Regions from separate parts of the Homo sapiens genome. Here region 2 is linked to region 1. The links come from fine-mapping of genetic effects on gene expression. A gene starts in region 1. The other region holds a variant in brackets. All regions are shown on one strand. Distances are between the middles of the regions. Region 1 holds the start of RPS6KA1 (ribosomal protein S6 kinase A1). Region 2 overlaps RPS6KA1 (ribosomal protein S6 kinase A1).

What was found. PIP is the estimated chance that this variant, and not a neighbour inherited with it, causes the effect.
Region 2: its variant is fine-mapped to the expression of RPS6KA1 in whole blood (TOPMed, PIP above 0.99). The same link has a PIP of 0.9 or more in lung and nasal epithelium.

What each region holds. Positions count from the first base shown.
Region 1 is chr1:26,526,897-26,532,263 of GRCh38, forward strand. RPS6KA1 (ribosomal protein S6 kinase A1) reads left to right here and starts at 2,865. Exons shown (of 22, transcript NM_002953.4): 1 at 2,865-3,087. The coding sequence starts at 3,025. LOC124903884 (a long non-coding RNA gene) reads right to left here and starts at 4,502. Exons shown (of 2, transcript XR_007065558.1): 1 at 4,302-4,502; 2 at 2,224-3,665. RefSeq lists a silencer at 2,750-3,229 and enhancers at 3,471-4,381, 4,382-5,293.
Region 2 is chr1:26,571,838-26,577,204 of GRCh38, forward strand. It overlaps RPS6KA1 (ribosomal protein S6 kinase A1), which reads left to right. Exons shown (of 22, transcript NM_002953.4): 19 at 12-88; 20 at 339-456; 21 at 1,387-1,524; 22 at 2,242-3,188. The coding sequence ends at 2,364. Among named protein-coding and RNA genes, the nearest start is that of MIR1976, 20 kb to the left of the region's middle. The variant C/T (reference allele first, on the strand shown) is at 2,762.

The DNA.
Region 1 (5,367 bases):
TGTAGTCCCAGCTACTCGGGAGGCTGAGGCAGGAGAATGGCGTGAACCCGGGAGGCGGAGCTTGCAGTGAGCCGAGATCGCACCACTGCACTCCAGCCTGGGTGACAGAGCGAGACTCCGTCAAAAAAAAAAAAAAAATTAGCCAGGTGTGGTGGCACATGCCTATAGTCCCAGCTACTTGGGAGGCTGAGCAGGAGAATCATTTGAACCCGGGAGGCGGAGGTTGCAGTGAGCCGAGATCAGGCTACTGAACTGCACTCCAGCCTGGGCGACAGAGTGAGACTCCATCTCAAAATAATAATAATAATAATAAAAAGAAGGCTTGGCTTACAATACATGCTCAGAAAGAGGGTCTAGTGTGTAATATATAGCCATAAATAAGCCAGGTGTGGTGGCTGTAATTCCAGCATTTTGGGAGGCTGGAGGATCGCTTGAGGCCAGGAGTTTAAGACCAGCCTGGGCAAGATAGTGAAACCCCATCTCTACAAAAACAAAACATATAAAAAATTAGCTGGGGACCTGGCACAGTGGCTCACGCCTATAATCCCAGCACTTTGGGAGGCCAAGATGGGCAGACCATGAGGTCAGGAGATTGAGACCATCCCAGCTAATACAGTGAAACCCCGTCTCTACTGAAAATACACAACGTTAACCAAGCGTGGTGGCACGCACCTGTAGTCCCAGCTACTCAGGAGGCTGAGGCAGGAGAATTGCTTGAACCTGGGAGGTGGAGGTTGCAGTGAGCTGAGATTGAGCCACTGCACTCCAGCCTGTTGACAGAGCAAGACTCTGTCTCAAAAGAAAAGAAAAAAAATTAGCTGGGCATGGTGGCACACACCTGAAGTGCCAGCTACTTGTGGGAGGTGGGAGGATCGCCTGAGCCCAGAAGTTCAAGGCTGCAGTGAACTACGATTTTACCACTGCACTGCAGCCTAGGCAACAGAGCGAGACTCCGTCTCTAAAAAACAAATAAAAAATATATAGCTGTAAATTTATTGAATTAAAATGAATCTTGTCCTATATACCTGAAAGATTGAGATTATAATTCCCATTTTACAGATGGAGAAATTGAGGTTTAGAGGCATAAAATGAGTTTCCCTGTGTTAAGAAGGTAGCAGAGCTGGAATTCAAACCCAGAATTGTTGGGTTCCAAAGTCCTTTCACTCAAAATTCAGTTCAACAGCTGAGGTCCTACCCTGGGAAAGCCATGGAAAAGGGGGAGCACGTGGATTCTGGAGAAATCCTTATCCACTTTGATTTTTTTTTTTTTGAGATGGAGTCTCTGTCGCCCAGGCTGGAGTGCAGTGGGGGCTATCTCCGCTTACTGCAAGCTCCGCCTCCCGGGTTCACACCATTCTCCTGCCTAAGCCTCCCGAGTAGCTGGGACTACAGGTGCCTGCCACCACGCCCTACTAATTTTTTGTATTTTTAGTAGAGACAGGGTTTCATCATGTTAGCCAGGATGGTTTCAATCTCCTGACCTCGTGATCCGCCCGCCTCGGCCTCCCAGTGCTGGGATTACAGGTGTGACACTTTGATTTTTTTAAGCCCTAGTCTGTTCTCAACCTCTTGTGTGACCTTGGGTAAGTCACTTCATCTTTCCGAGCTTGTTTCAGGATTTGTAAACTAGGTGGTGGTAATCATTCAAGGAAATCACATGGCTCGCAGGAAGCTTTTGATAAACATTCCTTCCCATTCCCCTGCCTTAGAACAGCTTTGCAAATAACTGACCAGTCTTCCTGCGAAACCAGCAAGCTTGTCCCTCCAGCAAGCTCACTCCTCACATGTGAATACATCTCAGCACACCCGGACCCCTAAGGCTCTTTAGGTGGAGGCTGAATCTCTCTGGGGCAACCAGTCTCCCTGGCCTTTCACTCCAAGTCCCACCAAGCCTCGGTTCATCCTGGGAGCCTGGTCCCTCCTCAGAGAGTCGCAAACCCAAACTAGTCCAGAGCTGGGGCTGCAGGTGACTCCAGGGAGACCTGACCTGAAAGGACCCCCTTCAAGTGATAGGGCAGAGCACAGATTGCAAAAACGCATATTAAGAAATCACTCTTGGCCGGGCGCGGTGGCTCATGCCTGTAATCCCAGCACTTTGGGAGGCCGAGGCAGGAGGATCACTTGAGCCGGGGAGTCAGAGACCAGCCTAGGTAACAAAGCGAAACTTCGTGTCTCTCTCTCTCTCACTATATACACACATACATACATATATGTGCATATATATAATATTTATTTATACATATTTATTTATATATGTAATATTTATATACATTATGTAAAATCAATCGATCAATCAATCACTCTGTGGTGGCACTATGGGTCCTGATGGTGGTAACAACTGCTGATGCCCATCTTGGCCTGGGGCACTGAGATCGCCCGGAGATCACAGTGTTAGCTTCAGGGCGGGGTAGAAATTAGAGGATAGGGGATCTCTAGGGCCTGGTGAGTTGAGGGCCTAAGGGGAGTGGGTCTCAGGCTCCTTCCAAGCCTCAGCCTAGATCAGGCCCAGGAACCCAGTGTGAATGTGTGTGCTGGGGTCGGGGATAAGGTGCTTCTCTCCCGTTGGAAGGAGAAGGAACATCTGGGCTGGGATTCCAAAAGAGCTGAGCGGGGGAGAACGGTGGCCCTGGTGTGGTGTGTCCAGGGGTACACCACTGGAAGGGAAGGAGCCAGCAGGGCCTCTCCGGCGGAGCCGAGCGCGGGCCGGGGGCTCGCGGCAGGGGCGGGGCCGGCCCTCGGGGCGCGGCGGGGGCGGGGGTCCGCGCTGGGAATGCCGCGCCGCGGGGGCTGGGGCGGGGCTTCTCCGGCTCCGCCCCCGCGCAGGTAGCCAATGGGCGCGGCGGCGCCGGGTGACGGAGGGAGCCGAAGTGCTAGTGCCGCGGCGGCGGCGGCGGACGGCCCAGCCGGAGCGCGAGGGGCTCGGGGGGGCGCGGCGGTTCGGGTCGCAGAGCCAGGGACCCCAGGACCCGGGAGGCGGCGCAGCCGGGGCCGCCGGAGGAGCGCGGGTGACCTGGCGGCGGCGAGATGCCGCTCGCCCAGCTCAAGGAGCCCTGGCCGCTCATGGAGCTAGTGCCTCTGGACCCGGAGGTGAGTGAGCGGGGCGGGGGACGGGCGCCCGCGGCCGGCGAGCCCGGATCCTCACAGGGGCGGGGCGGCCCGAAGCGCCGCTGCAGTCCGGCGGGCGCCCGCGAGGGCGCGAGTGCCCTCCGATCTCTTGCCCACTGTCCGGCTCCACCCCCCTATGCCCGGGTGTGCGTGTGCGAGGGACAGTTCCGCCAAGCGCCGACTACCTCCCCGCCATAGCCAGGAGAGGGGATCCTATGGGGCGCTGAGATCTGGTCGCCTTCACCCCACACCTAGGACCCGTCCCGGCATCTGTCCAGAGCTGTCGGAGCTTCCTCCATTAATGCAGACGGGGAGATCTTCAGTGCCAGATGTCTGGGATTCTACCAGAGACAGGGGTTATGGGACCCCCACTTCTCCCAGGGCCCTCCGCCAAGAGCTCCCTGCTTCTGGCTTCACCGCTGCTGAGCCTAGAAGGATTGCTCCTCTTGACCCCTGGCGGATGCGGAGTGTGGGATGGCACCACCCGTCTGGGGCTGGAACTCCTGGTTTTCTTTGCCCTGAGGCTAGGGCCAGAGGACACCTGTGTGCCCTACCCCAGGCTGTGGAGACGAGAGTGGGGAAGAGCCCTTAGACCTTGTGAAGATGATTCCTGGCAGGGCGTGGGGGGACCTTGGTGCCTGCCTCCCTTCTTATGCCCCTTCCGGTAGGAAGGGCTGGGCCCTTGGGGAGTTTGGCTTCTGCCAGCCCAGACTCCCCAGACAACCCAGCTCCTTCTCTCTCAGAAGCAGCTCCTGACCTCCCTTGAGGGCTCTGTGGCTCCAGTCCCTAAGCGTGCAGAAGGCCACCTCTTCCTGTGCCTTTTGACCCCAGGGTCAAGGTCAAGCCCCTGAATGAGCTGGTGGAAAACTTCCTCCTTAACCTCTTGCTGGGAAGGAAGCAGGTGATATTCTCCTTCCCAGGTGGTTGTTGGGGGTATGCAGGGAGGGAATGGAGACCTCATTTGAGCCCAGGAGCTGAGATGACTTTCTCCCAGCTTGGGCCTGGAGCCCCTGTCTCAGTCCCCTCCTCTGCCCTCTCTTACCTAGGGCAGCCACCAAGTGTCCTGCCTCTCAGGACCACAGGCTTAGATCAGGGTGAGCACCCAGGGTCCCCAGCCCCCAGGGTGTGCTGCCCCTTTAAAGGGATGGCCGACACTGGCTATTGGAGGGTGGGCGCGGCAGGATTAGGTAACCAACCTGAAGGAGCAATTTGGAGTAAATTGCTCTGGGATTCCTGCCATGGGGATTTTACAGGCACTGCTAGGCTGCTCAGAGGTTCTCTCGCTGACTCACCCTCTGAGGTGAGGAACACTGCCCTCTGCAGCCCCTGTACTGCCACCCCGCTACTAGGACCGGGGCGCAAGGTCCTGGGGGTGGTGCTCAGAGGTGGATTCCTTTGCCCAGGCACGCCCCTGGGACCAGGCCTCCAAAGGAGAAGGTAGGGCTGGGAGAGGCTGGGGAGTGACTTTATGCTGATAGGGAGGGTGGACACCCAGGAGCTCGATCCTGGGGCACCACTTCCTGCTTCTCTTTAGGGAATCCTGAGGCAGGGGCCAGCTTCACCAGGGAGCCAGGTTTAACTGGGAAACTCATCTCAGTTTTGAGTTCTGTAACATCTCAGGTCTGTGAGAGGGGAAGACCAGCGGACTTCCTGGGATTGGTGGGGCAGGGGGACGCAATTTCCTCAGGAGCTTCGCTCCAGAAACGATGTGTGATCCTCAGTCAGTCCTCAGCCTGTCTGGGCCTCTGCTTCTCCAGTGGCAAGTGCTAGGTTCTAGCCTCCACTTCCTGGGCCTGAGAGGGTGCAGAGCGCTGGGTACTGTTGTCTGGTCCCCCCTCCCCCACTCCTGGAGGTGCCAGGCGACTGGGTGTTATTGTTTGGGTAACAGGAGCCACAGGGCAGCCACGGCGCAGGTTGGGCTGTTCTCACTGGAGAACAGGGCCTCGCTGTTCTTAGCCCAGGTGACATGTAAGCGATACAGCCGCCTGACCTGCACGTACAGGCACCACCACTGCTGGCAGCTCCTAGCCAGGAAGGAGGCAGGTGAGGGGCTGGTGGGGGACTTTTCACAGGGACCTAGGATCTGGACTGCCCTGCCCTCCCTTAATGCTGCTGAAAATGGGCCGCTGGGAGGCAGGGCCTGGCCCAGGGTGCAGCCCAGGTGGAGTAATCTATGGGAAGCGTGGGTGAGGATTCTGCCTGGGCCTCGCTTAGCCCTGTTGAAAGCAGTAGCCTTGTCCCCAGGCCCAGTTCTGCCACGTA
Region 2 (5,367 bases), 45 kb after region 1:
CCTGTTGCCAGGTGCTGAAGCGCCAGGGCTACGATGAAGGCTGCGACATCTGGAGCCTGGGCATTCTGCTGTACACCATGCTGGCAGGGTGAGTGCCCCTGGCCTGGACCCTTCCCCACTCCTGCAGCCCTAGCACTTGGGCTGAGTGGTGCTTGTCTGATAGGAATGGCTCAGCCAGCCCCGCCCCAGGATGGTCTGGAAATAGGGACATGCTCCTGCCTCCAGGAGCTCTACCTTGGGAGTACCCCATCTGAGGGGGAGACACAGTCTCCCACCGCAGCCCCAGCCCCAGTATGGAGGCCAGAGTCTGTACCCAGACCGTGCGGGCTTTTCTGCAGATATACTCCATTTGCCAACGGTCCCAGTGACACACCAGAGGAAATCCTAACCCGGATCGGCAGTGGGAAGTTTACCCTCAGTGGGGGAAATTGGAACACAGTTTCAGAGACAGCCAAGGTGAGTCTGTACGGCCTGCGTGGGCTTATTTGGAGGAGGGAGGCAGGGTCCCATCCTAGGGCTTTTCAGCAGTTCATGAACAGCCTCATTTCTCCAAGCGGATGTTCCACAAATCCCTGTTGCTGTATTTCTCCAAGCGGAAGATTCCCAGGCAGACCACCACCACCTCCGTACCTTGTTGGGGTAACCTGGTGATCATTCATTGGCCCTTCTCATTCTGGACCCTGTGGGGCACTGAGGGCTGCATCATCACAGTCCCGGCTTTGTGGAAACGTAGTGTAGTGAGGGATACAGGTTTGCACACAAGGGGCAGAGATGCCTGGAGGCACAGATAGGCGGACGCTCTTGGCCAGGGGTGTGGACCGTGGAGACACAGAGCAGAGCAACTGGCCATGCCAAGCAGAGCCTCCTCGGAGGAAGTAGCATGTGAGCTTTCAGTATTAGCAACAGTTTTTGGTCATTGGGAACCTGTATGCCAGACAGAGTTGAACCCTCTATGTACGGCCGGCCACCTCACATCAACCTGTGAGGCAGGGAGTGGTTATTCCTATTTCTCAGCAGGGAAACTGAGGCTCAGAGAGTTGAAGGAACTTGCCCAGGGCACTCATTTGATGAGTGCAGAAGGCAAGTTTTGAACCTGAATCTGTCTGAGCCCAAACCTGAGGCTTTTCCCACCTTCCCACATGGCTTTTTGAAGGCAAAGGAGAAATGGAAGGGTGTTCCAGGACGAAGGGCCTAGAGCAGCAAAGGCCCAGCGACAGGAACCTTGGCTGTGTGCGGGGAGCCCTGGAGCAGAGTGGAGAATGGATCCCAGGGGCTGCCGCAAGGGTTCAGGCGGGAGCTAGCAGGAGATGGTTGCCCTCCTGTGCCCCATCAGGGGCCTGCTCCCCTGCAGCCCTCCCCCAACCCCCTTGCCCACTGTGTCCCCAGGACCTGGTGTCCAAGATGCTACACGTGGATCCCCACCAGCGCCTCACAGCTAAGCAGGTTCTGCAGCATCCATGGGTCACCCAGAAAGACAAGCTTCCCCAAAGCCAGCTGTCCCACCAGGACCTACAGCTTGTGAAGGTATGGCCACCCTTGGGCTGCTGGGCATCTGGGGGGTCAGCCCAAGGTGGCATGGTCAGGGACTTGTGGAAGAGCCAGGCAATGCCATGTCTGTACCAAGCACCATGAGGTGGAACATAGGAGAAGAAGACACAGCCCTGCCGTCAGGGAGCCTAACATGCTACAGTGTCACGGTGCACTCACAGCCCCCAATCCTCTGGAAGGCACAGCTGCTGACCTCTGAACCCTCCAGTCTGATGGGGGAGGCAGGACCCATGACCATAAAGGACCACTGAGGCTGGATTAACAGTGGGCTAGGCTGGGCGCGGTGGCTCACACCTGTAATCCCAGCACTTTGGGAGGCTGAGGTGGGTGGATCACGAGGTCAGGAGTTCAAGACCAGCCTGACCAAGATGGTGAAACCCCATCTCTACTAAAAATACAAAAATTAGCCAGGTGTGGTGGCAAGCGCCTGTAATCCCAGCCATTTGGGAGGCTGAGACAGGAGAATCGCTTGAACCCTGGGGGCAGAGGTTGCAGTGAGCCAAGATTGTGCCATTGCGTTCCAGCCTGGGTGACAGAGTGAGACTGTATCTCAAAAAAAAAAAAACAACAAAAACAAAACCAAAAAAAGTGGGCTGTGGAACACTGAGAGGGGCTGGCCTACCCTTGGGGCATGGATCCCCTCCCCGCTACATCTCCCACCATTGTGACCTGACCTCCCCACTTCTCTTTCAGGGAGCCATGGCTGCCACGTACTCCGCACTCAACAGCTCCAAGCCCACCCCCCAGCTGAAGCCCATCGAGTCATCCATCCTGGCCCAGCGGCGAGTGAGGAAGTTGCCATCCACCACCCTGTGAGGCACCAGGGCATTCGGGCCACAGGGCGGTGCTAGCTTGACACAGTCAGCATGCTTCCCAGAGGGAGCAGGCCGGAACCACAGGGCCAGAGGGAGCTGGAACCCGAGGGGCCGGGGAAGCTGCCAGCCCAGAACACCCCTAATGAGGGTGTGAGAAGTGCCTTCTCCTTCCCCAGGATGGACTCTTCTCGGCTCAGGCTCTGCTGGTGGAAAGCGATTCACTGTATAAACTTTTTTTTATGAAAAAAATGGCATCAACCACCATGGATTTTTACAAGATCCATTTGCCTTTCTGGGAGCAGAAACAGCCATTGCGGCCCCAGGAGGGGAACTGAGTCACGCTGGGGCTCTCTGAGACTCTTTAGAGCAGCTTTGGGATCCCACCCTGGGGACCCCCA[C/T]GATTGGCCACCTGTAGCCATCTGCACACACCTCCGAGACAGTCCAGTGTCACCTCTCTCAGAGCATCTGGCTGTTTAGCAGAACTCATTCTATCCCCAATCAGCTCCTTTTCCGTTCTGTTCTGCTGGGAGTTCTAGAACCACTTCCTGCTACAGGAGGGGTCTCATGTCCTGCTGGCTTCCAGCTTCAGGCACCAGCATCCACCTTGGCTCTGCCAGTGGATCCCCTGCGGTCAGGCTGGGCAGCCCCAGAGAGAGGATGTGGAAAGCACTTTTTGGCTGACTTCATCTGGGGTTGGCAACAGGACAGAGTTCACAGGAGGCCAGTGGGCGGGCCATGAGGGACAGGGTCTTTTTTCATTTCTTCCTCAGCTGGTTACTCAGGGTTCATCTGTCCATGGCCTTTCTAATAAACTGTTGAGTTGAAGCACGCTCTCCTGCACTCTTCATCCCTGAATTTACCCTCTCTCTGCTATCGGATGTTGAAGACATTGGCAGTGACAGAAAATGGGCCAGGGCCAGTTAGCCCAGCTGCTTGGAACCAGGTCATCTGGGGAGTGTGTGGGAATCCCGCTGGCCTGGCCCACGTGTTCCTGCCAGGGGATTCCATTATGGTATTGATAACAGTATTATTAGCCAATGGTGACCAAGTGCCAGGCACTATGCCTGGGCCTCACATGAATATCTCATTTAATCTTAACCCTGTGAGGTAGATGCTCTGTATTATCCCTGTTTTATAGATGGGGAAACAGGCTCAAGTTGGGGAATGACATTTTCTCATGCAGTATTTTCTGAGCACTCATTCTGGCCCTGTTCTGGATGCTGGTGAACCAGGTAAAGAACAAGGTCATTGTGTCCAGGGGTCTTACTTCCCAGTAGGGGAAACGGACACTTAACAAGCCATGGTCAGCTACTGATAAGACACATACAGAATTAAACTGGGGTGAGATATTGGGTAATCAGGGAAGGCCATTCTGGGGAGGTAACCCAGGAGCTGAGATCTGAATGGTGAGAAGGGGTCAGCCAAGACTGGTAGGCAGAGGGCAGTCAGGACAAAGGCCATGAGGGGGAAACAGGCTCGGTGTGCTCAGGGATGAGAGGAGGCTGATGTAGCTGTGACCCCAGAGCCAGGCGTTTGCCCAAGATGAGGCTGGAAAGGAGGCAGAGGCCAGTTATGCTAGGCACTGTAAGCCAGGATTAGGCGTGCATTTAATTCTGAGTGAGGCGCAAGCTCCTAAAATAATTTGAGCAGGAAAGTGACATGATTTGATCATGATTTGATTCACATTTTTAAGAGATCACTCTGGGCCAGGTGCAGTGGTTCACGCCTGTTATCCCACCACTTTGGGAGGCCGAGGCAGGCAGATCACTTGAGGTCAGGAGTTCAAGACCAGCCTGGCCAACATGGCGAAACTCTCTCTACTAGAAATACAAAAATTAGCTGGGTGTGGTGGCGCATGCTCCCACCCATCAGCTCGCAAGGCTGAGGCATGAGAATTGCTTGAATCTGGGAGACAGAGGTTGCAGTGAGCCGCGATCGCACCACTGCACTCCAGCCCAGGCGACAGAGCGAGACTGTCTCAAAAAAATAAAAGATCACTCCGATTGCTCTGTAGAGAATTTGGACAGTGAGGTGGGGAGGCAGGAGGGAAGCAAGGTGACCAGGTTGGTGGCTACTGCAGTAGCCCAGGCAAGAGATGAGGTGGCTTGGACTAGGGTGGTGGGATGGAGATTGGGATGGAGTAGATGGGGTCAGGATATGCTTTGGAGGTAAAGTAGACAGCACTTGCTGGCAGTTTGCATGCAGAGGATAAGGGAAACAGAAGATTCAAGGATATCTTCTAGATTTTTGGGGAAAGAGTTTTGGGGGAAGCATTGGAGAGAAATAGGTTTGAGGAAAATTTTTAGAGCTCTGTGGGAGGTAACTTTTAAGTATCCAAATGGCTGGGCATGGTGGCTCACGCCTGTAATCCCAGCACTTTGGGAGGCCGAGGCAGGTGGATCACCTGAGGTTGAGAGTTCGAAACCAGCCTGACCAACATGGAGAAACCCCGTCTCTACTAAAAATAATAGAAAATTATGCCGGGCGCAGTGGCTCATGCCTGTAATCCCAGCACTTTGGGAGGCCGAGGCGGGCGGATCAGGAGGTCAGGAGATCGAGACAATCCTGGCTAACATGGTGAAACCCTGTCTCTACTAAAAATACAAAAAATTAGCCGGGCCTAGTGGCGGGCACCTGTAGTCCCAGCTACTCAGGAGGCTGAGGCAGGAGAATGGCATGAACCCAGAAAATGGAGCTCACAGTGAGCCGAGATCGTGCCACTGCACTCCAGCCTGGGTGAGAGAGCGAGACTCCATCTCAAAAAATAAATAAATAAATATAAATAAAAATATCCAAATGGAGATGTCAAATAAGAGTTGTAATTAGAAGTTGAAGTTCTAGGGAGAGATCTGAACTGGAAAGATAAATTTGGAAGTCATTAGCTTGGAGAAAGTTTGCAAAGCCAAGAGACGGGGCTTCTGAGAGTGTGGTCCACATACCAGTAGCATCAGCATCATCTGGGAGCTGGGTAGAAGTGCTGAATCTCAGGCCTGTCCCCAGACCT